5 separate regions of the Homo sapiens genome follow, and regions 1, 2, 4 and 5 are each linked to region 3. Evidence: fine-mapped expression QTL. A gene starts in region 3. Each other region holds a variant in brackets. All regions are shown on one strand. Distances are from middle to middle.

The links. PIP is the estimated chance that this variant, and not a neighbour inherited with it, causes the effect. A credible set is the group of variants that fine-mapping cannot tell apart.
Region 1: its variant is the best candidate, but not a certain one, in a credible set for the expression of CYP1B1 in uterus (GTEx, PIP 0.63).
Region 2: its variant is the best candidate, but not a certain one, in a credible set for the expression of CYP1B1 in whole blood (INTERVAL, PIP 0.67).
Region 4: its variant is the best candidate, but not a certain one, in a credible set for the expression of CYP1B1 in subcutaneous fat (TwinsUK, PIP 0.57).
Region 5: its variant is the best candidate, but not a certain one, in a credible set for the expression of CYP1B1 in sigmoid colon (GTEx, PIP 0.66).

Annotation. Positions count from the first base shown.
Region 1 is chr2:38,215,688-38,220,791 of GRCh38, reverse strand. All of the region lies in intron 1 of LOC102723739 (a long non-coding RNA gene), which reads left to right. Among named protein-coding and RNA genes, the nearest start is that of CYP1B1-AS1, 87 kb to the right of the region's middle. The variant A/G (reference allele first, on the strand shown) is at 1,917.
Region 2 is chr2:38,256,898-38,262,001 of GRCh38, reverse strand. No RefSeq gene overlaps it. Among named protein-coding and RNA genes, the nearest start is that of ATL2, 120 kb to the left of the region's middle. The variant C/T (reference allele first, on the strand shown) is at 1,991.
Region 3 is chr2:38,074,054-38,079,146 of GRCh38, reverse strand. CYP1B1 (cytochrome P450 family 1 subfamily B member 1) reads left to right here and starts at 2,996. Exons shown (of 3, transcript NM_000104.4): 1 at 2,996-3,367; 2 at 3,758-4,801. The coding sequence starts at 3,759. RefSeq lists silencers at 1,881-2,000, 2,911-3,000, cis regulatory regions at 2,044-2,073, 2,994-3,001, an enhancer at 1,975-2,173 and a promoter at 1,640-3,015.
Region 4 is chr2:38,161,285-38,166,388 of GRCh38, reverse strand. The region is part of intron 2 of CYP1B1-AS1 (CYP1B1 antisense RNA 1); the gene reads right to left. It also overlaps a transcript of LOC107985871 not described here. Among named protein-coding and RNA genes, the nearest start is that of CYP1B1-AS1, 33 kb to the right of the region's middle. The variant C/A (reference allele first, on the strand shown) is at 2,107.
Region 5 is chr2:38,198,237-38,203,340 of GRCh38, reverse strand. It overlaps LOC102723739 (a long non-coding RNA gene), which reads left to right. Exons shown (of 4, transcript XR_007086289.1): 2 at 652-839; 3 at 3,257-5,104. Among named protein-coding and RNA genes, the nearest start is that of CYP1B1-AS1, 70 kb to the right of the region's middle. The variant C/T (reference allele first, on the strand shown) is at 2,241.

The DNA.
Region 1 (5,104 bases), 140 kb before region 3:
AGCTGGAGTGCAGTGGCGCAATCTTGGCTCACCACAACCTCCACCTCCCGGGTTCAAGCGATTCTCTTGCCTTAGTCTCCTGAGTAGCTGGGATTACAGGCACACACCATGCCTGGTTAATTTTTGTATTTTAGTAGAGATGGCGTTTTGCCATATTGGCTAGGCTGGTCTCAAACTCCTGACCTCAAGTGATCTGCCTGCCTTGGCCTCCTGAAATGCTTGGATTACATGCACGAGCCACCATGCCTTGTCCTGTTTTCATTTCTCTCGGGTATATAACTAGGAGTGGATTTGCTAGACCAAATGGAAAGTCTGTGATTACATTTTTGATGAGCTGTTAGACTGTTTTCCAAAGTGATGGTGCCATTTTATATTTCCACCAGCAGTGTATGAAGGTTTCAATACTTTCACATCCTCACCAACACTTGTTATTATTTGACTTTTTAAAACTACAGCCCTGTTATTGGTTGTGAAGTGGCTATATCATTATGGTTTTGGCATGTGTTTACCTAATGACTAATGACGTTGGACATCTTTTCATGTGCTTATTGGCCATTTGTGTATCTTCTATGGAGAAATACTTGTTCAGTTTTTTTGTCTATTTTCAAATTGGGTTATTTGGCTTTTTATTATTGACTTGTAAGAGTTCTTTATGTATTCTAGGTACAAGTCCTTTATCAGATATGATTTGTCAATATTTTCTCCTATTCCTTGGGTTGTCTATTCACTTTCTTGATGGTGTTCTTTGAAGCACAAAAGTGTTCAATTTTGTTGAGGTCTAACATTTATTTATTTTTTCTTTGATTGCTTGTACTTTTGATGTCATGTCTAAAAATCCATTGCTAAATCCAAGGTCATGAAGATTTACCCCTATGTTTTTTTCTAGTAGTTTTATAATTTAGTCTCTTAAATTTAGATCTTTGATCCATTTTGAGTTCATTTTTGTATACGGTATGAGGTAACTTCCCTTCTGTCAAAGCATCTGGCAGTATTTGCAATCCTAGCTTCTTTGACACTTTGGATTTGGGAGAGAGGGTATGAAGAGCAGAGCCTCTAGCCAACTCACAAGTGACATATAGCGTGAGCAAGAAATAAACGCTTATTGTTTCAGCTGCTATGATTTGAGGGTTGTCTGTTACTATAATATAATTAAGTCTATGCTGATTGATGCAAGCCTCTTATCAGATTCTGTTATATTTGGTTTTATTCTCTCCCACCTTGACCATTGTCCATCTTGTATGCTGTTTGCAAATTTATCTTTCTGAAATATAGTCCCAGTCAGGACACTCTATCATTTACTTAAGCTATTTGGTGGCTTGCAAACTTCTTAGTGTGACATTCAAGGCCCTTAGGATCCTGCTCCAATTGCATTGCCAGAATTATTTCCTTCCTTCATATAATTTTGTTTCAGTCAAAAAGAAATCACTTGCAATTCTCTCATATGTTCTGCTTTCCCTTCTCCACGTTTGTTAATGCTTTTCCCTCCACCTGGAGTGCTTTTTGTTGCTTGCTGGCCTGCGGAGATTCTACTCTTCACCTCCTCGTTGCAGACCGATTTGCTGTAGCTGGGTCCCTTCCTTTGTTGAGGGCTCAATGTGCATGAGATGCACAGATACGACAGTTCCTCACAAATACAGCCTTTCCCCCAACACTTGTCTGGAGGACCCAGAACATAACCTCATCTCATTTTTTTCTCTTCTTTACTTTGCAAAGAGGAGGTGCTCAGTACAGATTTGTTGAACAAACTAAGGAACAAATGAATTCCTGATTTTGCTTCCTGTGTCCTCAAAATAACAGCAGCAGCAGCAGCAGGATCCTTTTCAGTTCATTAACAATCATGTTGCACAAAACAGATGCTGGCGAATAGTAGATGCGCTGCCAAATACATGTGCGCTTCTGGAGTTCTTCATTTTGAC[A/G]GAAAAATGAGTCCTTGTGTACAGCCACAGCCTTTCCCTGGAAGCAGCCACCTTTATGACAGTCTCCCCATGAGGAGGAGAGGTTCCTCCAAGCCCCAGGGGTTTACAATCCCATGTGATTCCTCGTGAATAGTCCTGCCTGCTGGCAGGGCTGGGGCAGCACAGAGAAGGTCTGGGGACACTGACCCAGAGCAGATGTGTAACAGCTCAAACTGCAAAGCCTCTCAGGAAACCATCAGCCAGAGGCACAACCACAGCCATTGTCTGCTGTTCCCTGCCAAACCTCCACCTTTCCTCTGTCATCTTCATCTCTGATTCCCCAGAGGACCCGTCTCTGACTACCAGACCTCAGCGCTCCCTGGGAAAGGCCCCCAGGGAGGATTTGTCCCTGACTCCTCCTAAACATCCCAAACCAGCTAGACAGAAGGAGCACATTTTAGTAAAGTATTGGGTGTTTTTATAATAAAGCATACGGGGGAAAAAATGTATTCTTTCAGGCGGCCGATAACAAGAAGTAGCTGAGGTGCCTTCACCCTATGAGGGCACAGGGAGAAGGTAGCAGTCTGCGACCTGGAGGAGCACCCTCACCAGGACACGACTTTGCTGGCACCCTGATCTCAGACGTCCAGCTTCCAGACTATGAGAAATAAATGTTTGTAGCTTATAAGTCAAATAAAAAAGAAAGAGACAGAAAGAAAGAAAAGAGAAAGCAAGAGAGCAAGAAAGGAAGAAGGAAAGAAAGAAGGAAAGAAAGAAAAATAAAGGAAGGAAGGAAGGAAAGAAAGAAAGAAAGAAAGAGAGAGAGAGAGAAAGTAGTTGAGTGAGCCTGTGGATCCCTGTAGCTTAATTGGGACTGAATCATAAGACAGGGCAAAACTCTGGGGATGTGTTGCAAAAACATTGACTCTGGGTGCCAGCCTCAGCCCTGTGCCTGTGAGACCTTAGGCAAACTGTGGTTAGTTAATTCCGTTAATTAACCCCCTGAGCCACTGATTCCTTATCCTAAAAACAGGGAAATGCCTACCTCACCCAATCTTCTATTAGGCAAATTAATGAACTAACATAGGGAAATTACTGGCACACGGTGAACACTCAGAAAATATTAGATTCTTTTCCTTTGAAGGAGGCATTGAGGATGGCAAAGAGGCTGCTACTCAGATTCAGGGACCGGCAAAACGAGGACAAATATTGATGGAGTTCCCACCAACTGCGGGAGCCCAGTGTCTGCTGGCTGGTGCAGACAAGCACACAGGCGATTGGAGACAGGGTGATATGGACCATCTGGAGCTTGTGAGCTCATATGTGGGGCACCTACTCTTGGGAGTAGAGGGAAGGGAGGGTTCCAGGAGGGGTCCCTGTAAGCCAGGTTAGAGGATTAGTAGGAATTAACTGGGAAAAGTGTATGAAACAGCATTCTGGACAAAGGGAACAGTTAATATGAAGACTTGGAAGCCAGAAATCCTTGTGAATAGTGGACTGCTGGTAATAAAAATAATAAAAACACCAGCTGTGGACCTACTATGTACTAAGCACTCTGCTAAATGTTTTATATACATTGTTGCCTTAATTTTCACAACAACTCTTTGAGCGATGTATTATTAATCACACTGTTTCACAGAGGAGGAAACTAAGATCCAGAAGCATAAAGGAATCTTTGTAAGATCATGGAGCTTGCAGAAGATGGGGAAGGGCTTTGATCAAGACTCCTTGATCAAAGAGTCATTGCCAGCTCTTGCTCCTAACCACTGTACAGAGCTGTCATCAGTAACTGGTTGTGCCTGAGGAAGTACTTCCTGTAGATGTTGGGGTGGCCACTCCTCTAGGCAAGCCTGTTAAATCAATGGTTAGGTAAACAGAACAGATCCATGAAGCCAGTCTAACTCTGCCCTTACACCCTACCTGGCCACCATGTAGATGCCCATTGGGCCAGTGCAAAACCACTCCCATGATTGACCAAAGAACTACTCACAGGGATGCAGTCCAATAAAGGTGTGTTGTGGGGGGCCTGCCTCCCATGGATGCTAGGCACACAGACTGCCATGTGAATCCTGCCCTCCAGGGTTGTGAGGAGTGGCAGTCTTGTGCCATTTGGATGATCTGGTATGTTGGCATTTGTTGAGAAAGTGAGTTACTGACTAGGTCTTGGAGCTCATTTGTTTTTCAGATTAATGAAGAAAACATCTTTCTTGCATTAGAGTTTGGCCCAATTTGAAACATAGTAATGGCGTTAGGTGATTTGGGAAGGAGGGGTGGATACTGGAGGAGACAGATAGTTGTCATAATTTAAGCAAAAATATTTTCCAGTCTTCAAGTGAGAAGTACATTTGACACATAGAAAACGATTGGTGCTTGTGGAGTTCTATCTATGTTGATACTTTTCTCTGTTAAATTTCCTGCCATTATCTTAAAAAGTAAAGACCCATTATGAACACATGAAAAGATGCTGAACATCACTAGCCATCAGGAAAATGCAAATCAAAATCACAAGGAGATACTACTTTGCACTCAGTAGCATGGTGAGTACAAAAAGGCAGGTCAAAAAGATGGGTAATAGCAAATATTGATCAAGATGTGGAGAAATTAGAACCCTCATACATTGCTGATGGGAATGGGAAATGGTGCAACAGTTTTGGAAAACAGCCTAGTAAATCCTCAAAAGGTTAAACCCAGAGCTACTGCATGACTCAGCAGTTCTACTTCCAGGTATTGCACCCAAGATAAATAAGAACACATGTCCACAAAAACAAACACAAACACAAACAAAAAAACACCCTTGTACATGAAGATTCATAGCAGCATTATTCATCACAGCCAAAATATGGAAACAACCCAAATGTTCATGACTGGTAGATGGATAAACAAAGTGGGGTGTATCCCTGCAATGGAATATTATTTTGCAATAAAAGGAAATAAAATAGTGATAAATCTTGAAAATATTATGCTAAATTTAAAAAATTTGTTACAAAGAATTATGTATTACATGATTCCATTTATACAAAATATCTAGAATAAGCAAATCTGTGCAGATAAAAGGTAGATTGGTGGTTGCCTGGGGCTGTGTGTGGGCTGGGGAGAAATGGGGAGTGACTGCCAATGAGTATGGGGTTTCTTTCTGGCGTGATGAAAGCATTTTAATATTGAATGCGATGTTCATACAACTCTGTTAATACACTAAAACCATTGAATTG
Region 2 (5,104 bases), 180 kb before region 3:
GCCGGCATACCAGTCCAGCACCAGGTATTTGGGTAGAAGAGGAGGCCTGGAGAAAGAGTCATTGTCCCTGATTTTCATTTTAGTGGGGGAGGCAAGCACTATGATACTATGCTAGAATACAGGCCCTGCCGAAGTGCTCCAGAACCAGCCTCAGAGCAATGAGGAAGGATTTGAGGGCTTGCATGTGAGTTGGCTCTCGCAAGAGCAGAACTGGACAGGAGGACTGAATTCTGAGTCCTGGCGACAAAATTCAGGAAGCAAATGAGAATCCAGAAGTCCAGCACATAAGAGCCAGTGGAAGGGAAGAATCCAGCCGAGGCAGAGGTCTGTGGGGAGGGCCGTGCGTGAGCGGGTGGATCCAGCAAGGCCCACAGATCAGCAAGGAAGCCAGAGAGTGGGACGTTTTTGGTAAAACCCGCTGCTGGTGATGGCCTGGAAAGATGTTTTCTGAGAAAGCTTGGGCAGCTTGAATGCTGGGAGAGGGTGTGGTGGTCCCTGGGGCAGGAGACCCTTCTTTCTGACTCTGTAACCACAGCCCCGGTCTGCTTCATCACTCCGTGGGCAGTGATGGTCTGTGCCCAAAACGCTGTGATTCGAAAAGAGATAATTTGCAGGCAACATGAAGAAGTCCCAAAAAAGACAGTATTAGAAGAAAATGTCCTTCAAGAGTTTTAATGTAGGTGGAGAGAAGGCAGGATGGAATTCAAAATCATGTTTTGAAAGGACATGGTGTCCTTTCAAAGCTCCAAGCGTTGCTTTGCTGTGCTCTGGGCATGCCTTGGGCTGGATGGGAAGAAAAGTGAAAATAAAGTGTGTGTGCATACATGCATGTGCACGTGTGTGTGTGTGTGTGTGTGTGTGGTGTTTTCTAAAATATCAGAGGACAGGATGTCTGACAAAAGACTCTTGTTAAATGTGTTGTTGAATTAAGTTGCCTTGGAAAGAATTTCTAAAAAAGCTTTCAGAATCAACACTTCTCAGTTTCTCAGCAAGGATTTTGCCAGAGCAATAGAAAAAGACATTACATTGTTCCCAATTCAGTTCTAGCACTCTCTTTTTTTCCTTGCATACTGTCTTCACAGGAAGGAAAAAGTTGTCTAAGGGAGGAAGACTCAGGGCGTTGCATCGGGACTCCCCGTTCTCCTCTAAATCCTACCTCTTACGATTCTTTTCAACTCTTTTTCCAAACTTTTAAAGGCTTTGTGGACTTCTTAGAAACCGAAAGTTCCCAAGAATAGAATACGTGTCCACTGGAAGTCCCCGTAGGTGCCCAGGGCTGGCGGGACTCTCTTGGTGGTGTAGGACCTTGCTTGGATGTTGAATGTGTGGGAAGGACACCCACAGGGGGAAACCCAGGATGGTGGACGTGGGGCCAAAATATGCAGCAGCTGCAAAGGATCTGGGTACTTGGCTCTACTGCCCTCTAATGTGAGAGAAGCCCAGATCAACACGGGAGGGAGTGGGCGTTAGACAACCTGCAAAGAGACAGATCTGAGAGGTGCGGCTCCCCGTGGACTTAGTGTCTTTCAGTGAAACCACCGTTCACTCCTGAAGATCTGAAGATGGAGGAAGTTTTTCCCATCCTACTCTCCCCTTTTAATTTCCTAAGCAAAATATCATTTCATCTTTCTCAGTCCATCTTTTGTGTCTGATGAATGGATTGAGCTAGATAATCTCTAAGGTCTTTCCAGCACTAACCTCCTATGCAAGGTTGGCTGCATAATTTGCAGGGCCTGAAAATGCAAGGCCCTCCTTCGAAAATCAAGGAAAAATGATGTGAAAATTACTAAAACATAAAATTCCTTCCTTTCCTCTGTACTTTCCCTCTCGACTTGTCATGAAGTTTTTAAAATTTATTGTTGTTCTAAGAAAAGAAAAATTAAAATTTAATGATATTAGCATAAAATGGCAATTTTAAATGTAAATAGAAGAACATTTAAATTTTACGCAGAATCACTAAAATTATACAATTTATATTTCTCAGTTTGTA[C/T]ATTCATATATATTTTGTGTTTGCCAGAACAATGGAAATGCTATACAAAATGAGCTCAGATTGTTTTCATTTCATTTTTTTGTATGAGGACTTTCTACCAACAGTCTGTACCTTTGACTTACTGATGAGTAAAGAAAAACTGAGCTGGGTGCACAGGCTCACACCTGTAATCCCAGTGCTTTGGGAGGCTGAGAGGGGAGGATCACTTGAGGCCAGGAATTTGAGACAACCCTGGGCAACATAGTGAGACCCTATCTCCACAAAAAAATTAAAAATTAGCTTGGCGTGGTGGTGCAGGCCTGTAGTCTTAGCTACCCTGGAGGCTGAGCTGGGAGGATCGCTTGATCTCAGGAGTTCAAGACTGAGAGCCATGATTGCAACACTGCACTCCATCCTGGGCAACAGAGCAAGACCCTCTCTCTTTTTTGAAAGAAAAGGAAAGGAAAAAGAACAACTGAAGGGAAAAGGAACTATGAGTTGCCCCATTTCCCCCTGTCCTTCTGTGTCACCATTTTCACCGTAATTGGTTGGCTAATACAGGAAAATCACATGAGTAAGAAAGCAAAAAGCTGATACAGGAAAAAAAATCAACTGTTTCTGTAAAAAGTAATAAAAAAGGAGCCATCACAGGATCTTTAATATACAAAGATGTTACAAGAAGAAAGAAGGAAAGTAGTAGGAAAAACAAATATCAAATGAAGTGCAGACTCTAGAAGAATGTTGCAGCCCATGTCATAAAACTATGACATTAAAAAAGAATGAGGCCGGGCATGGTGGCACATGCCTGTAATCCCAGCACTTCGGGAGGCTGAGGTGGATGGATTGCTTGAGGACAGGAGCTCCAGACCAACCTGACCAACATGGTGAAACTCCATCTCTACTAAAAATACAAAAAATTAGCCAGGCATGGTAGTAGGCACCTATAATCCCAGCTACGTGGGAGACTGAGGCAGGAGAAGCGCTTGAACCTGGGAGGTGGAGCTTGCAGTAAACCAAGATTGTGCCACTGCACTCCAGCTTGGGCAACAGAGTGATACTCCATCTCAAAAAGAAAAAAAAAAAAAAAAAAGGCCATACCACTTACCTGTTAAAATGGCCAAAATCCAAATCCAAAACACTGCCAACACCAAATACTGGCAAGGATATGGAGCAATAGGAACTCTCATTCATTGCTGGTGGGAATGCAAAACGGTAGAGCCACTTTGCAAAGCAGTTTGGTAGTTTCTTACAAAACTAAACATACCCTTACCATACGATCCAGCAATCATGTTCCTTGGTATTTACCCAAATGAACAAAAACTTGCACACAAATGTTTAGAGCAGCTTTATTTATAACTGTAAAACATGGAAGCAACCAAGATATGCTTCAGCAGGTGAATGGATAAATAAACTGTGGTACATTTAGACAATGGAATATTAATTAGTGCTAAAAAGAAATGAACGATCAAGTCATGGAAAGACACGGAGGAACCTTAAATGCGTATTACTAAGTGAAAGAAGCCGATCTGAAAAGGCTTCATATGATACCAACTATATGACATTCTAGACAAGACAAAACTATGGAGACAGTAGTAAGATCTGTGGTGGTCAGGGGTTTGGGGGAGGGAGGGCTGAAATGGCGGGGCACAGAGGATTTTTAGGGCAGTGAAACTACTCTCTATGATAGTATAATGGTAGATACATGCCATATATCTGTCCAAATCCATAGAATGTACAACTCCAAAAGTGAAGCCTAATGTAAACTATGGCTTTGGGTGATATTGATTTGTCATTGTAGGCTCATCATTTATAACACGTGTATCCCTCTTGTGGGGGATGTTGATAGTGGGGTGGGGGCTATATGCACATGCAGTCAGGGAGTATATATGAATACTGTATTTTCTGCTCAATTTTGTTGTGGACCTAAAACTGCTCTAAAAAATAAAGTCTATTTAAAAAAAAAATATGACTGGGCACAGTGGCTCGTAATCCCAGCACTTTGGGAGGCCAAGGTGGGTGGATCATTTAAGCCCAGGAGTTCAAGAGCTACCTGGGCAACATGGCGAAACTCTGTCTGTATTAAAAGTACAAAAAAATTAGCTGGGCATGGAGGTGCATGCCTGTAGTCCCAGCTACTCCGGAGGCTGTGGTGGGAGGATCTCTCTCTCTCTCTCTCTCTCTGTCTCTCTCTCTCTCTCTCTCTTTTTTTTTTTTTTTTTTTTTAAGGCAGAGTCTCAGTCTGTGGCCCAGGCTGGAGTGCAGTGGCACAATCTCAGCTCACCGCAACCTCCGCCTCCTGGGTTCAAGTGATTCTCCTGCCTCAGCCTCCCGAGTAGCTGGGGCTACAGGCATGCCACCACGCCTGGCTAATTTTTGTATTTTTAGTAGAGACAGGGTTTTGCCATGTTGGCCAGGCTGGTCTCAAACTCCTGACCTCAGGTGATCTACTGGCCTCAGCCTCCCAAAGTGCTGGGATTACAGGCGTGAGCCACCGCACCTGGCGGATCTCTTGAGCCTGGGAGATGAAGGTTGCAGTCAGCCACGATCATGCTACTGCAATCCAGCCTGGGCCACAGAGTGAGACCTTGTCAAAAAAAAAAAAAAAAAAAAAAAAAAGACAAATATTTTAGAATTAATTTTAAAAGTAATTAAACCAAGGACCCAAAGCAAAGAGACAAAAAGATCAGGGAGAGATGTATTGAATTAAAAGTTGCTAATATATAAATAGGGATAATATAATTTACCAAATAAGTTTCAAGGGATGATAACATATCTATATGGACCAATTACATTAGAAGAAAGCGAGAAAGCTGTCAAACATCTATCATCCCCAACAAGCACAGAGCCTAGAATTTAAAACAAAAACAAAAACAGACCCTATAATTGAAATTAGGGCTCTGTTGGAAGGAACATGAAGGAAAACTGACACTGTTGATTGTAGAGGGTATACATGAGAAATCTGAGCAAAACAAAAAAGGATTTCAAAGGCTAGGAGACACTATTAGCCTGTGTACTCTTAGAACAGACTCTTACCTTTTACCTTCCATAAAATGAGTTTTATCCTTCTACAAATTGAGGTATAGATTTTTAAAAATAGTCTCATTTATAGTACTATATTATCTTAAGGATTTGAAG
Region 3 (5,093 bases):
GCATTATTGAGGAGTTGGACAGGCGGTCTTAGGAACAACCTCGTTTTATACTTTTTAAAAATAGGAATTTACTTAAAGGCAACTTCCATCTGCTCTCATTCTGGCAGAGGTATTGTGATAAAGGCTTTCAGGAATGTCAACAGCTCAGGATTGGCATTAGCTCATAGATAATTCCCGTCTACTAAATTAAAGTCTATGAGAGATTGATGCATGCACCAGAGTCTTGAATTATTAGGCAAGGATCTTGCTAAAGCTGGACATGGGAAGGTTGCTATGAAACTCATTTCAAAGGCTGTGTAGGCCAACTCACCTCTGGGAAACCAACGCTTATTATTAAACCAATGCAACTGCTCAAAAACTAAAACTCCATCACTATCTAAGTTCCCCATCATGGTGTGTGAAATCATTTCCAGAAAACTCTTCAAAAGATACCGAATAAAAGGCATCACAGGCCGGGCACGGTGGCTCATGCCTGTAATCCCAGCACTTTGGGAGGCCCAGGCTGGTGGATCACCTGAGGTCAGGAGTTTGAGACCAGCCTGGCCAGCATGGTGAAACCCCATCTCTACTAGAAAAATACAAAAATTAGCCGGGTGTGGTGGTGCGCACCTGTAATCCCAGCTACTTGGGAGGCTGAGCCAGGAGAACCTGGCAGGCGGAGGTTGCAGTGAGCCGAGATCACGCCATTGCACTGCAGCCCAGGTGACAGAGTGAGACTCCATCTCAAAAAAAATAAATAAATAAAAATAAAAATAAAAAAAGCCATCACGAAAAGACATTTCTTTATCAGGTCAGCAAATTGATTGCTGGTTTCAATCTCTCAAGAAGTCAGATTCTTTTCAGACACTCCTTTGTGTTTCTTTACAATGTAATCAGTCATTCCAGGGTCAGCTATGAGGCACACTCCCCTGGCCTCCCTCATAAGCAATTTAATTGCAAAGGGTTAGCATACTATTTCTTCTCTGCTATTCTCAGAATTCTCAATTATGAAAACAAAAACAATAATTAAAAAGTTCTTCCAGCTGATTTTTTTTTTTTTTTTTTTTTTGAGACAGAGTCTCACTTAAACTCTGCTGCCCAGGCTGTAGTGCAGTGGTGCAATCTCTGCTCACTGCAACCTCTGCCTCCCACGTTCAACCAATTCTGCTGCCTTCCCCCCTGATCCCCGAGTAGCTGGGATTACAGGTGTGCACCACCACGTCCGGCTAACTTTTGTATTTTTAGTAGATGGGGTTTCGCCATGTTGGCCAGGCTGGTCTCGAACTCCTGACCTCAAGTGATCCGCCCGCTTAAGCCTCCCAAAGTGCTGGGATTACAGGCGTGAGCCACTGCGCCTAGCCCCACGTGCATTTTTTTTTTTAAGGGAGGCAGGAAAGAAGGCATTTGGGCCTCTTATCTGCAATTTTCTTCCGTGTAAACTTATGTGAAGGATCTGGAGTGGGACTTGGTGGCTTCAAGCCCTGGCTCCACTTCTTGATGGCTGCGCGACCTGGGTTAAGTCACGCAACCTCTCTGAACCCTAGTTTATTCATCTGTAAACAGGTCAATAATAGCACGAGATTCGCAGCGCGAGTGGAGCTCAAAGTGCAGGGTTGTCCCTGGTGAACCTATCACTTTTATATTTATCCTTTGATGAAGCCAGTACAATTCCTACCTGGTTAACCAGATACATCCCACCTCTTCCCTCGAGTTCGCCCTTCCCCCCGCCTCGTGAAGTCCTTGTTCTCTTAGCTGTCTTGAAAATCCTATGCATCAGCATGTAGGAAAGGGCGCGCCAGGCGGGGGAAGCCACCCCCGCCCAAGCGCCTCCGGCTTCCCTTATAAAGGGAGGGCCCCCTTCGCGACCGCAAGCGCGCCCAGGAAGACCACAGAGCCGCCGGTGCGCAGCGAGGTGGCGATACGCGCCCGGGCTCGGCCTGCGGGTGGTGGCCCAAGCGTCCGCCTCGCTGGCCTGGCAGGCGCGACTGTGCGTGCGCAGCCGAGGGTGGTGGCGGCCGGCACCCCACGCCAAGGGTGGTGGTGGCCGGCACCCCACCCTCGGCCGCCGCCTCCGCGTGTCAGGTGCCGTGAGAAGCGCGGGAGGAGCGGCCGCAGGCAGCGCCCAGGGATATGACTGGAGCCGACTTTCCAGAAGCGGCGCACGCAAAGCCCAGCTCCGCACGCAAAGGGGAGGCGACAGCAGAAACTTCAACCCGATAAAGTTCGCCGGAGCGCGGAGATTCGCCTCCTCCTGCCACTCTCCGCCCCGCTCGGGTCCCGCCCCGCTAGCTCCCCCAGGCCCCCCCAGTCGCCCCAGCTTGGCTCCCCGCCCTGCGCCAACGGCTTCCATCGCAGCCTGGGCGGCCCCGCGCCCACCAGCGGGCGGCGCCACCTGGAGTGGCCTCTACGCGGGAAATCTCAGGGCCAGCTGCGCCCCAGGAGCCTTTGTGTGCCCAAGCACTGTCGGGGCCCCGGGGCGGGGGAGCGGCTACTTTTAGGGATTCCTGATCTCGCCGCAAGAACTGGAAAAAATTTAGCATGCCAAAGAGCCTCCACTGAGGTGGCAATTTGTTTGCGAGAACCTAAGATAAAATTTAAACAACCAACCAGGGGCGCTGTGAGGCAAACCGCTGCCACTACACTGGCTTTCCGGGAAGCAAGCTCAAGTCGCGGAGAGGGAAGGGAGGTCGTGCGCTCGGGGCGGGGCGCGCTCCCAAGTCGAGCGCAGCGGCCGGGGCAGGTTGTACCGAGCGTGGTTCTGGGGACACCGTGCGGCCTCGATTGGAGGTGGCTGTGATGAAGCGCGGTTACCGCACAATGGAAACGTGGGCACCTCCGCTCCCATGAAAGCCTGCTGGTAGAGCTCCGAGGCCGGCCGGTGCGCCTGGACGGGAGTCCGGGTCAAAGCGGCCTGGTGTGCGGCGCGCCCCGCCCCCCGCAGGCCCCGCCCTGCCAGGTCGCGCTGCCCTCCTTCTACCCAGTCCTTAAAACCCGGAGGAGCGGGATGGCGCGCTTTGACTCTGGAGTGGGAGTGGGAGCGAGCGCTTCTGCGACTCCAGTTGTGAGAGCCGCAAGGGCATGGGAATTGACGCCACTCACCGACCCCCAGTCTCAATCTCAACGCTGTGAGGAAACCTCGACTTTGCCAGGTCCCCAAGGGCAGCGGGGCTCGGCGAGCGAGGCACCCTTCTCCGTCCCCATCCCAATCCAAGCGCTCCTGGCACTGACGACGCCAAGAGACTCGAGTGGGAGTTAAAGCTTCCAGTGAGGGCAGCAGGTGTCCAGGCCGGGCCTGCGGGTTCCTGTTGACGTCTTGCCCTAGGCAAAGGTCCCAGTTCCTTCTCGGAGCCGGCTGTCCCGCGCCACTGGAAACCGCACCTCCCCGCAGGTCAGTCTGTCTGCCGAGGCGCTGCCCGGCGACCTCTTCAGATGGATTATTACAGGTAGCGGGTGGCGTGGTAGGTACTTTAAAGGAAATCAAGCGCCACCGCCTCGATGCCCGCAGCGTTGTCCCCAGATTGCAGGAACCGTTACGCGCCTTGCGGGGAGGGGAAGGGTTTGGCGCTGGGTTACAGCGAGGTGGAAACACGCCCCTTCTCTTCTCCAAGGGAGAGTGGGTTGGGGATGGGAAGGGGCGTCTTCGGCCATTTCTCCAGAGAGTCAGCTCCGACCTCTCCACCCAACGGCACTCAGTCCCCAGAGGCTGGGGTAGGGGCGTGGGGCGCCCGCTCCTGTCTCTGCACCCCTGAGTGTCACGCCTTCTCCTCTCTGTCCCCAGCATGGGCACCAGCCTCAGCCCGAACGACCCTTGGCCGCTAAACCCGCTGTCCATCCAGCAGACCACGCTCCTGCTACTCCTGTCGGTGCTGGCCACTGTGCATGTGGGCCAGCGGCTGCTGAGGCAACGGAGGCGGCAGCTCCGGTCCGCGCCCCCGGGCCCGTTTGCGTGGCCACTGATCGGAAACGCGGCGGCGGTGGGCCAGGCGGCTCACCTCTCGTTCGCTCGCCTGGCGCGGCGCTACGGCGACGTTTTCCAGATCCGCCTGGGCAGCTGCCCCATAGTGGTGCTGAATGGCGAGCGCGCCATCCACCAGGCCCTGGTGCAGCAGGGCTCGGCCTTCGCCGACCGGCCGGCCTTCGCCTCCTTCCGTGTGGTGTCCGGCGGCCGCAGCATGGCTTTCGGCCACTACTCGGAGCACTGGAAGGTGCAGCGGCGCGCAGCCCACAGCATGATGCGCAACTTCTTCACGCGCCAGCCGCGCAGCCGCCAAGTCCTCGAGGGCCACGTGCTGAGCGAGGCGCGCGAGCTGGTGGCGCTGCTGGTGCGCGGCAGCGCGGACGGCGCCTTCCTCGACCCGAGGCCGCTGACCGTCGTGGCCGTGGCCAACGTCATGAGTGCCGTGTGTTTCGGCTGCCGCTACAGCCACGACGACCCCGAGTTCCGTGAGCTGCTCAGCCACAACGAAGAGTTCGGGCGCACGGTGGGCGCGGGCAGCCTGGTGGACGTGATGCCCTGGCTGCAGTACTTCCCCAACCCGGTGCGCACCGTTTTCCGCGAATTCGAGCAGCTCAACCGCAACTTCAGCAACTTCATCCTGGACAAGTTCTTGAGGCACTGCGAAAGCCTTCGGCCCGGGGCCGCCCCCCGCGACATGATGGACGCCTTTATCCTCTCTGCGGAAAAGAAGGCGGCCGGGGACTCGCACGGTGGTGGCGCGCGGCTGGATTTGGAGAACGTACCGGCCACTATCACTGACATCTTCGGCGCCAGCCAGGACACCCTGTCCACCGCGCTGCAGTGGCTGCTCCTCCTCTTCACCAGGTAAAGCCTCTGGGAGGCGTGGGCCAGGTCTTTTCTCCTCTGAAAAAGGCGGAGTAGAGACAGAATATGCTGAGTTTGCAAGCAGGGCCCCGGGTTTGGGGTTTCGCTCCAGGTCCCCACCCCTCAAAACCAAGATCGCGTCGGTAAAGGGACTCACAGTGAGGGCTGCGACACGCGCACGCGCCCCACCCAGCGGTGCCCCGACCCCTCCGGTCTCCTATCTTGTCTCTATCGTCCCCTCCCCTGCTTGCGAGTGAGAACACATTTGCAAAGACCCCTCCACCCCCCGGAA
Region 4 (5,104 bases), 87 kb before region 3:
CCTCAATTGAAGGGACAGGAAAATGAGGCAGTACCACCCTCCTAGGTGGCATTTGAAAATATCCTCGCTTGTTTTCTAATAATCATGCCTGGAGATGCCACAGATATTTAGTGAGCAAAGGCCAGGTATTCCAAAGAGTCAGTCCTGCAAACAAGAATCGTCTTGCCCAAAATTTTAATAGTGTTGCCAGTGAGAGACCCCAGAAGGTGGAAAAGTTTGAATTGTGTGTGATCTAAGGTATCAAGGTACAGACTTTGGCACTAGGCAGTCCTCAAATTCAGTAGCCATGAGATGTGAGGAAAGGTCCGACTGTTCAGGAAAGAAACCAAGACATGTAACAAAGCCTACCTCCCAGCTATCTCTATTTCTCTCTTCTCCTCTCCCAAACCCCCAGCCCTGACCTAATCTCTGTTAGGATCCCAGAGATGGACCCAGTAGTCTCATATTCATTTCTGGTGAAGTCATAACACAAGCTCTCTTTTCACTGGCCCCAGGCCCTGTCACTCCTAGCTAGGTGACCTTGGGGAGTCACTTTATCATGCAGGACCTGGAGTGTTCATTTATAAAATCAGTAGCTCAAGTTGGATGATTTTTAACACCTGTTTTATTTCTGACATTCTGACTTTATTTTAGTCTAGAAATTCTTACTCTATGTAGAGAATAGCCTTCGGTATATTATTCCTAGTTGCTCAGTTGATAACGTGAAATACCTTGTTAACTGGAGCCAAACTTAAATCCACAATAAAAGACTAGGCTTATGCCATTACTTGTTCTAAAGAAGGAGTACATTTACTTGAATTCTTTCCCATGATCCAACAATTGTCACGTGGACCTTACTTAAGGGCAGAGTTTCATTCAGTAAAATATATTCACTTTATCATTCATTAAGCAGCGTTAAGTTTGTAGTCTTTGTCCTAGATTAAGATTTCTATTGACGGTTTGGGGCCAGATAACTTTTGGTTATGCAGGCTGTCCTGTGCATTGGAGGCTGTTGAACAGCATCCCTGGCCTCCACTTAGTTGGTATTAGTAGTACCCCCATCTAGTTATGACAACCAAAAAGTCTCCAGACATGGCCAGATATCCCCTGGGGGGCAAAATCACTGTCCTTAATGTTGGGGATGTGATGACTAATACCCATTCCCTGTTCTCTAGGATCTCACAGTCCTCGGTGAGGAGAGAACCATTGCACAGTTAGTTACGATACCTCATGGAAGCACACTGATGGTGCTATCCATCACAGCATATTTTGGGAGCAATCAGCCAGGGAAGTCCCCTGGCCGAGCCTTCACGGATGAGTAGGGTTAACCAAATGAAGCATAGGCAGAGGGCAAAAGGTGACAGCAGTTGCAAAGCCACAAAGCTGAGCAACAGCTTGGGGTGTGTGAGGGACTTCTTGCCCATCTGCAAGGCAGCAGGTTGGCAGAAGTGATATTGAAGAGGCAGACAGCACTTTGTAAGGCTTCTCAGATGTTCTCTTCTGGGGAATGGGGAGTCTCAGGGAGCTCTGAGGCAGGGGAGAAACATGGTCAGATGTAAGTTGTAAACAGACTGGATTTGCAGCAGACAGGCTTGGAGGCTGTTGGAATAGGTAATCTAAGAAAAAGAAGATGAGGGCCTGAGCCCAGGCAGAGGGTGAGGGGCTGGAGAGGAGAGATGAAGAGGGGCCTGAGGGAGCACCATCATGGAACAGCAAGGGAGGCCCTTTTGCACCCATGGCCAGAGTTCTCCAGTTGCCCACATTCTCAGGGAAGGTACACAAACCATTATATATATATATATATATATATATATGTGTGTATGTATATATAACCATTTTTATATGAAGTACACTATATATCATTTATATATATGTGATGAAGTTACATTCAATGAGAAGGTGATTAACCTAATTTTGCAACTAATTGTATTAGTCCATTTTCCTACGGCTGTGAAGAAATACCCGAGACTGGGTGATTTATAAAGAAAAAGAAGTTTAACAGATTCACATTTCGACATGGCTGGGGAGGCCTCATAATCATGGCAGAAGGCAAAGGAGGAGCAAAGCCATGTCTTACATGGCGATAGGCAAGAGGGCATATGCAGAGGAACTGCCCTTTATAAAGCC[C/A]TCAGATCTGGTGAGACTTATTCACTGTCATGGCAACAGCACGGGAAAAACCTGCCACTGTGATTCAGTTACCTCCCACTGGGTCCCTCCCATGACATGTGGGGATTATGGGGGCTACAGTTCAAGATGAAATTTGGGTGGGGACACAGCTAAACCATATCACTAACCTAATTAGCCAGTGAAGCTTTTGACCAGTTTTTAATGTGTCGAGAAAGACAGGTCTACTTCAGTTTACAGATGTGCAGCAAACGGGCAATGTTTTGCCAACAAACTGTTCTCCATAAGAGAGCATGCCTTTGAATTTCCACATGCTCCTCAGCAGATCCAAACTGTAGGGGGCCACCCTGGGAAATTTCTGGAATCAGGAGGTCTTCCACCACCACCAGCTGCTAATGCTGCTGCCACAGTTTCAATTAGATGGAAATTGAGAGATAGATGAATGCTTAAAGAAGATTGCAGTGAGAAAGCAAAGTGCACACAGTGTATCCTGGAATGATTGGCAGTTGGCTCTCAGGTGTCAGGAGTGTCAGGTTTGTGCAAATGTAATTGCAGTTTTTGCCATTACTTTTAATGACAAAAACAGCAATTGCATTTGCACCAACCTAACAGATTGCTTCTCCCAGAACCTCCAAAATCATTCCCTGTCGGTAACAAAGTTAGGGCACAGGTTACTTTCAAGTTCCTTTAAGTCAGAGATCATGCATTATATACCACTCTGGCCCTTCCACAGAGCTGTGCAAAAGCAGACATTTAATAAGTATTTGTGAAAATGAATCAACATGATGACTGCATTAAGTTCTCCCCAGCCTAAATAACACTCCCAAGAGGAAAAAAAAAACTCCCAAGAGGGAAGCAGGGATGATAGCTGAAATCTACGGGAGTGTAAGTGGAGTCAAGCCAAGCCTAGAAAATTGGTGGAAGGGGGTATTTCGACACGCAGAGCTGACCCCAAGCAAACCCAAGAATTAGACAAACTGTGTCTCTTTACCTTTATTCTCATGGCAACCCCTGGCTTCCCATGCTTCTCACCTAGGTTCTTAGGTTGGACCATGCCAGGTGGCACTCTGGGTCCCTCTGCTGCATGCAAACAGCTCCTCTATGATTTATGCTGACGAGCTCTATGATCTTGGAGGGAGTAGCCCCAAAGCTATTATGAGGTGATAGCAGAGACCTTCTTTCTTCTAGGACTGAAAACTTTTCTCTTCTTGGCTAACCCATATTATCTCTGTCCTGCTGTGAAGTTTGATTATATAAAGAGAGGATGGATGGGATTTGAATTAATTATACTGATTTCATCTGAAGGAAGTCTCTTATTCAAAATATCTTCCTTTTTGGTAGATCACTGAAGATTGTTTTGAGTTGAGCTCTGTGTTTAAAAAGAGTTGCTTTACATTAGAACATAATATTCTTAGCAGATTGAGATCAACATCCTAGGAATAGAAATTTTGCCTGGGACAGAGAGGAGAAAGGAGAAATGTTGTATTTTTACAGTAGACTTAGATGGCAAGGCAGTAAAAGGTTGGGGAGAGGTTCAAAAATGGAGATAGGAGAACAACAAGAGAAAGTGTGGCTTATATTGGGATTGTTCTCTAGGGTCCTGGTGGTAACCAGTTCTTCCAGGGCTTTGTGGTTGAGTTCCAAAGGTCACACAAACCCCTTGGCTCAGAATCTCTGATTGAGGAGAGGCTCTCTCTGCAGATCAGCACCAAGTTTCTTTGCTATTCTTTGCTATTCCCTGCTTTAGGGAAAGTTGGAGAAAGTAAAAAGAGACTAACAACAAGCCAGGGAGATATATCCTGAAATTCTTTAATGCTGTATGTAGAATTGAAGAGAGCTAGAGCTGGAAGGGCCCTTGGTGAGTCCCTAGTTTAACGCTTTTTTTTTTTTTTTTCTTTTCTTCCCCCCATAGCTGAGGCCCATAGAGGGTAAGAGCCCACTCCAGGCATGCTGGTTTTAAGACTAAGGTCTGTCCAGTACCTGAATGACGTGCTGAGAATGGGGTATAGGATGGTCCTTTTTTTTTTTTTTTTTTTTTTTTTGAGACGGAGTCTCGCTGTGTCTCCCAGGTTGGAGTGCAGTGGCGCGATCTCGGCTCACTGCAAGCTCCGCCTCCCGGGTTCAAGCAATTCCCTGCCTCAGCCTCCCGAGTAGCTGAGATTACGGGTGCCCGCCACCATACCTGGCTCATTTTTGTAGTTTTAGTAGAGACGGGTTTTCACATCTTGACCAGGCTGGTCTTGAACTCCATACCTCGTGATTCACCCACGTCAGGCTCCCAAAGTGCTGGTATTACAGGCGTGAGCCAGCGTTCCCAGCCAGGTTGGTCCTTTTTTAGGAAGCAAGAATACTTGTGCAGAAAGGAAGCCACACTGTGGCTGGGTGGCTTTAGTTAGATCTTTTGCAACTATTCATGCCATAGTTGAGATCTGGATTTTTTGCTTCCCGTTGATGTTTGCCATTAGGTTTATTAAAGGATCTTATGTCAAGCTGACAAAGGCACCTGAGTTGAGAGAGTGGGGCTTGAGGGAATGAGAAGAGGAGCCCAAGCCCGTGCCTGAAGGAAACAGCCTCAGAAGAAGGCAGCTTTGCCCAACACTCATGAGGCCATTGCCAGATGAAGCTCTATTTCATATCTGTATTTAGTTTCAATATAAAAAGATGTACTAGATTTATGCTGCAGCTAGAAAAATCCCAAAGTAGGCCACCCTTTCTGTGGTTGGTCCCCTAGCTCCATTTCTGAACCCCTCCCCAACTGTTCACTGCTTTCCTTTCAGAAGACTTCCCCCATCCCTGCCTAGCCCATCTGCCTCTACTGCAAAATGCAACATTGCTCCTTTCTCTTCTCCAGACACAATTTCAATTCCCAGAATGTCGATCTCAATCCACTGAGGATATTAAGTTCCAATGTAAAGCAACTTATTTTAAACAAAGTTTTTAAAAGTTCAGCTGAAAACTCCAGCTGCAAACCTCCCAGAGTAGATGTATCTCGGTTTAAGAT
Region 5 (5,104 bases), 120 kb before region 3:
ATCAGCATCCCCCATCTGTGAGGTCATCGGGATATTTCAAACAATCTTCAGCTCTCATTAGTTGAGTGCGTTTCACAGGCAAGTCCTTATCTTTTGTAACTTTTGCTGCCACATCCTGAGAAAGGCCTCTCTGCAGAATGACACTTTCCCTATGGGTCAGCCCGCCATAATGAGCCACCAACTGAGGTGCCCTTTGCACTCACTAGCTGTATATGTTGATATTAACCTTTCGTGTTGCGAGATGTCGCTTTTACCCTTGGCTTCTGCCATGTAAGTCTCATTATTTCTAATAGGCTGTGGCAATTAGGGTCTTGGGGCTGCTGATCGCAGCCATGTGGAGCGGGGAAGGGGCACTGGGGAGAGCAGTTGCTTTTTCTTTCATGAACAATGTGATGCATAGCTCAGCCCAGATCTGCAAACAGCGAGCTGTAGTAGACCTCCGGCCGAGGATGGGAAATTCCACACCCAGCGCTTTCACATGTCCTTTCTTCACGCCAACTACTGGCTATTTGCAAATCCCTTTTGTGTAGAATGACATGCTTGGCAGATATTTCAGCACATTGGATTTGGCCTAATAAGGAATTTATTAAACAAGATTATTTGGGGATAAAATGGATACATTCAAAGACACTCTTTTTTTTTCTTTTAAAGATAGTTGTCCGGAAAAGGAAGAGGATGACACTGATGACCAGCCGTCTTGGGTGGTTCACAGGCTCACTAAGGAGGCAGTGTTGAGCCTGACGGATCTGTGAAGGCCCCTCCGACTTGTAACTGTAAAATGATGACTCTTGATGGAACTCTACAGTTGTTGACACCTGGTGGGCCACCTACAGCTGAAGGTAAATAAAAAGCTGTTTCTTCAAGGTTAGAACAATAAATTGGTAGAATCCTAATAGGGATAAGGGAATGAAGAGGAAAGATTCCACAGAAGGGCAAGTGCATAAGGAAAATCTACAAATAACGAAAAACATAACAGAGGGTCAAGCTCTCACATTCTCTTCAGTTCTTTGACCTGAAGCTCTTACTGTATTAGAAAGATAGCAAAACAAAATGAAGCATGATTTTTGCTTCAGACTAGAAGATGTTGAAGGCTAAGGGACAACAGCCCAGAGGAAAGACATTAGCTTATTTATAGGTAGCAGAGCTTGAATATTCTACATGGGGGCAAGATTTTTCCAAAGAAATGCAAGAAAAAGCCCCTATATTAATCTGCTGTTTATGAAAATAACACTTGGGAAAGCCCCTGCAATGAATGTCTCATAAATTAAGGGCATAAATTCAGAAATCCTAGTGTGATACTACTAAAATAATCCCTCCTGGCAATGGAGCAGTATGGCCTGCTGAGAGCTCCTTACTCCTGATAGCTGATTTATTACTTGCTCTGCAAAATGACTCATTTAAAATATAAGTTCATTTCAGCTAGGTTGGTCACAGTATAAATATGTGGTGGTGGCAAGGTGGAGAGTGCAAAATATATAGCCAGTAAACATCAAAAATTAATTCTTCCTTGAATAGATAAAAAGTTTCCAGTAGAAAGCATAAGAACCAATTTTCCTTCCTTCCTTCTCTCCTTCTTTTTTTCCTTCCTTCCCTCCCTTCCTCCACAACCATTTAATCAGCTTGTGCTATGAGTAAGCATTGGACCGGGAGCTGATGATACTATGCACCTGGTAATGAAATCTATGGCCTCTTTGCATTCATAAGTGTCTTTTCCAGGCTACTCCCCCACCACCCAGCTCCAATTTTATTCTTCTCCCTTACTCCATGCCTGGGAAAATAGAATATAACCCACATGGAGGGGAGGAAACTATTGGGGCACAGAGGAATTCTCAGTAGAGTTCAAGGGCATTTACATATTTATGGCATTGGCTCTTTGGTTTTTCTTTTTTGGATGCTTTTCTTCCCATTCGAACACTGCTCCCCAGACCTCTGGAGCAGTACAAAGGGCCTGGGGCTGCCTCACACATAGCAGGGAGGATTCTGTCCTGGGAAGTCCAAGCAGGAGCAGGATAGGACTCAGGGAAGGATGGCTTGGGCCAGCTTCTCTCAGACCCAGGGAGAAGAGCTCTGGTTCCTCTTATTTCTTGGGATCATCCTTCCTTACTTTTTTGAGTTTTTAAGGCTTTCCCACCTATCTATCATCTATCTATCTATCTATCTATCTATCTATCTATCTATCTATCTATCTATCTATCATCTTTCTGTCTGTCTACCTCTCCATCACAGTACCTAAAGGGGAC[C/T]TTAGAAGGTAATAAAAATGATTGCAAATGACTAAACCCATTGAACAACTGCCAGATGAGAAAACTGAAGCTCAAAGAAGGCAGGTGACTTTACCAGGGTAATGCAGTGTCTGGTAGAAGCTGCTCACAATCTTAAATCTGTAGTCTTTAAATGCAGCATTTATTGCCTACGATGTTATGACTCTTGGAATAGTTACTAAACTTTTTTGTTCTTCTATTCCCAACTGGGATCCCCTTAGTGACCCTTATTGAGAAAAGTCTTCTAAGTTCAAGAATAGAGGACATGTGGGAGAAGGTGAATTATGGAGCTGGAGCTGGAAAGAATTCAGTGGCGTGACTGTGCTGTGTGTACTGTTGTCAGCTATAATTCAACAAGAGCTCTTACAGAGAACTTTCTTAATTTATGTTTAAAGTTTTTTTCCCTCTGGTGCTGTGTCCATAAATGGCCAGATTATAGGGGACCGTTTTCTTTGGTATTGTTTATAGTTATCTTGTGCCAATACACAAAGTTGAAGCACTTCTTTCAGAAAATAAAATTATATTCTGATAAACTACAGTTTGGAAGTAAATTTGGTGGTAAGTGAGCATTTTCTGGTGCTGAGGGGACTATGTAGGGCAGCAGTGAGGTGATCAGCCCTCTGACCTTAGAACAAAGAACTTGGAGGAAGAGCGCACACACCTCACAAGAGGTTGTCACTTTCTCCGTAACTATTTCCACATTGGGTTACAAACCACAATTCGTGTCTGTTTCTAAGAGACCGTGAGATATTTTTCAGTTCAATTTCAAATTGCTTCTGACAATTGAGAGGGCTTCACAGCTTTACTAACTGATCAGTGGTTTGGGCTTTCAGTTATTTGATGCACAGAGAGTTTCATGAAGGAGTGTTTTAAATGAAACTTTCACATTCATTCCTTTTCCAATTGGACGGATGCACAGCAAAATTCAGTGGTGTAGCATCTCACAATGGACAGATTCAGTTTGACAGTGGGTAAAATTTTGTTCCCTGTGTTTTAAGGTTCAAAGTGATAAAACAAACCTGGTACGGAAATAACTGATTGTGGAACGCGAAGGACCTGTGATCATGCAAAGGTGACAGAGCAGGTAAAATGTTTTGGACAAGAGGGAGAGAGTTTGCAGGTAAAGAACCTATAAGGGGCAGAAAGAGGAATGCAGGACACTTCGGGATGTGGGTCACATTTTGTCCTGGAATCAGTACTTACCAGCTTAGTCTGAGGCCTTGGGACAGAAGTGCTGCTCATAAAAGTAAATTGTGTTTCTGCAATGAAATCTCTGAAACTTCAGGAGAAGAGCACTTGGTCAGCTTGCTTGGGGTTACTAGTTCAGTGGTGACATACAAGTGTGTGTGTGTGTGTGTGTGTGTGTGCACGTGCATGCGCATATTTGTGTGTTTAGACGGTGTGTGCTCACTGCTTCAGAGAGCAGTTTCAGGGCCATCTGTTTTGAGCTCAGTGTGACTCCAGATAACCAAGAGTAGGAAACAACTCTGGGGTGATGATGGCAGCAACAGTGACCTCAAAGTAAAGTGGTGAGTATTTTTTTACTATCTTCCCTGATTGTGTGGGACCCTCAAATATTTCCCCAATTATTTCTGGGAATCCTAAAGAGCTACCTCTTAAGTCCTCTAAGCAAATTATCTCAGCAGCCTGAGAAAAGGGACTTGCCATTTTCCCTCTTCTCTGCCTCTGAATCCATTTGGTAATTATGGCCAAGAAGTCACATGTAGACTGCATTGCAGTGGGGTGTGGCTGAGAGGACTTGCTTTAGGGTGGAGCGAAGTAACATGCTATTAATCTGTTCATGTAACCAAGCAATCTGTCTTTTATTCTACATATTGTCACATAGTCCATAGAGCATTCAAGGCCTGGAAAGAAAAGAACACTAACAACAAAACCAAAACAAGTAGACAAACAAAACAACTTCAAAATACAGCTCCTGTTCTGTAGGAGCACATAGTCCATTGGAGGTCCACTTACACACACACACACACACACACACACACACAAGGGTGGTGTAAACAGTGGTGCTGGAGTCTCCTGAGATTGTGCCCGGCAGCACGGCATCAGGAAAGACCCCATGGGAGCAGAAATTTTGAGATTGGAGCCCTATTTTGAAGGAAGAGTAACATTTGGACAGGTTCAGGTGAAAGGAGGGAGAACTTCCTAGGTAGAGAAGTGGCATGTGGCAGGAACTTGCATGGCGAGAAGCTGAAGCCAGCTGTTTGGTTGGTAGGAAGATCAGTTTTCCAGGAGCAGGCAGTCAGTGTAGACAATCCACACTGGCGAGGTAGCCTGGAGTTAGGCTGTGGAGGACTTTAAGGACAGTCTCATTGGATCTGGGGCCCACCCTAATGCAGGATTATCTTATTCCAATCCTTACCTTAATCATGTCTGCAAAGATGGCATTTCCAAATCAGGTCACATTCTGAGGCTTTGGTGGAGGTGAATTTTTGGGAGATGTTATTTAATTCACTACAGATGAGTTAAGATTGGGGCTGATTATAAACTGCTATAATTGGGGTAACAAGGAAAGGCTTTTTGGAGGGAATCATATTTGAGTTGAGACTTGACCAAGGACAAGGAAGAAGCCATGTGAATGTAAATAAGCAGAAGGAACACCAACAGTCAAGACCTTAAGATGACAATAAGTTTAGTGTTTAGAAAGAATGACAGCTTTTTTTGTCCTCTGTGATGTGAATTTTCTCCCTTGAAATGGTGCTAAAGCATTTAAGCCTAAAGAGACAAAATAGGAGACAATCTTGGAATTGAATCCACTCAATCTGCCTGCTGCTCTTGCTAAGGTCAAGGCTGTGCTGTGGATGAACATGACCTCGACTGAAAGTATT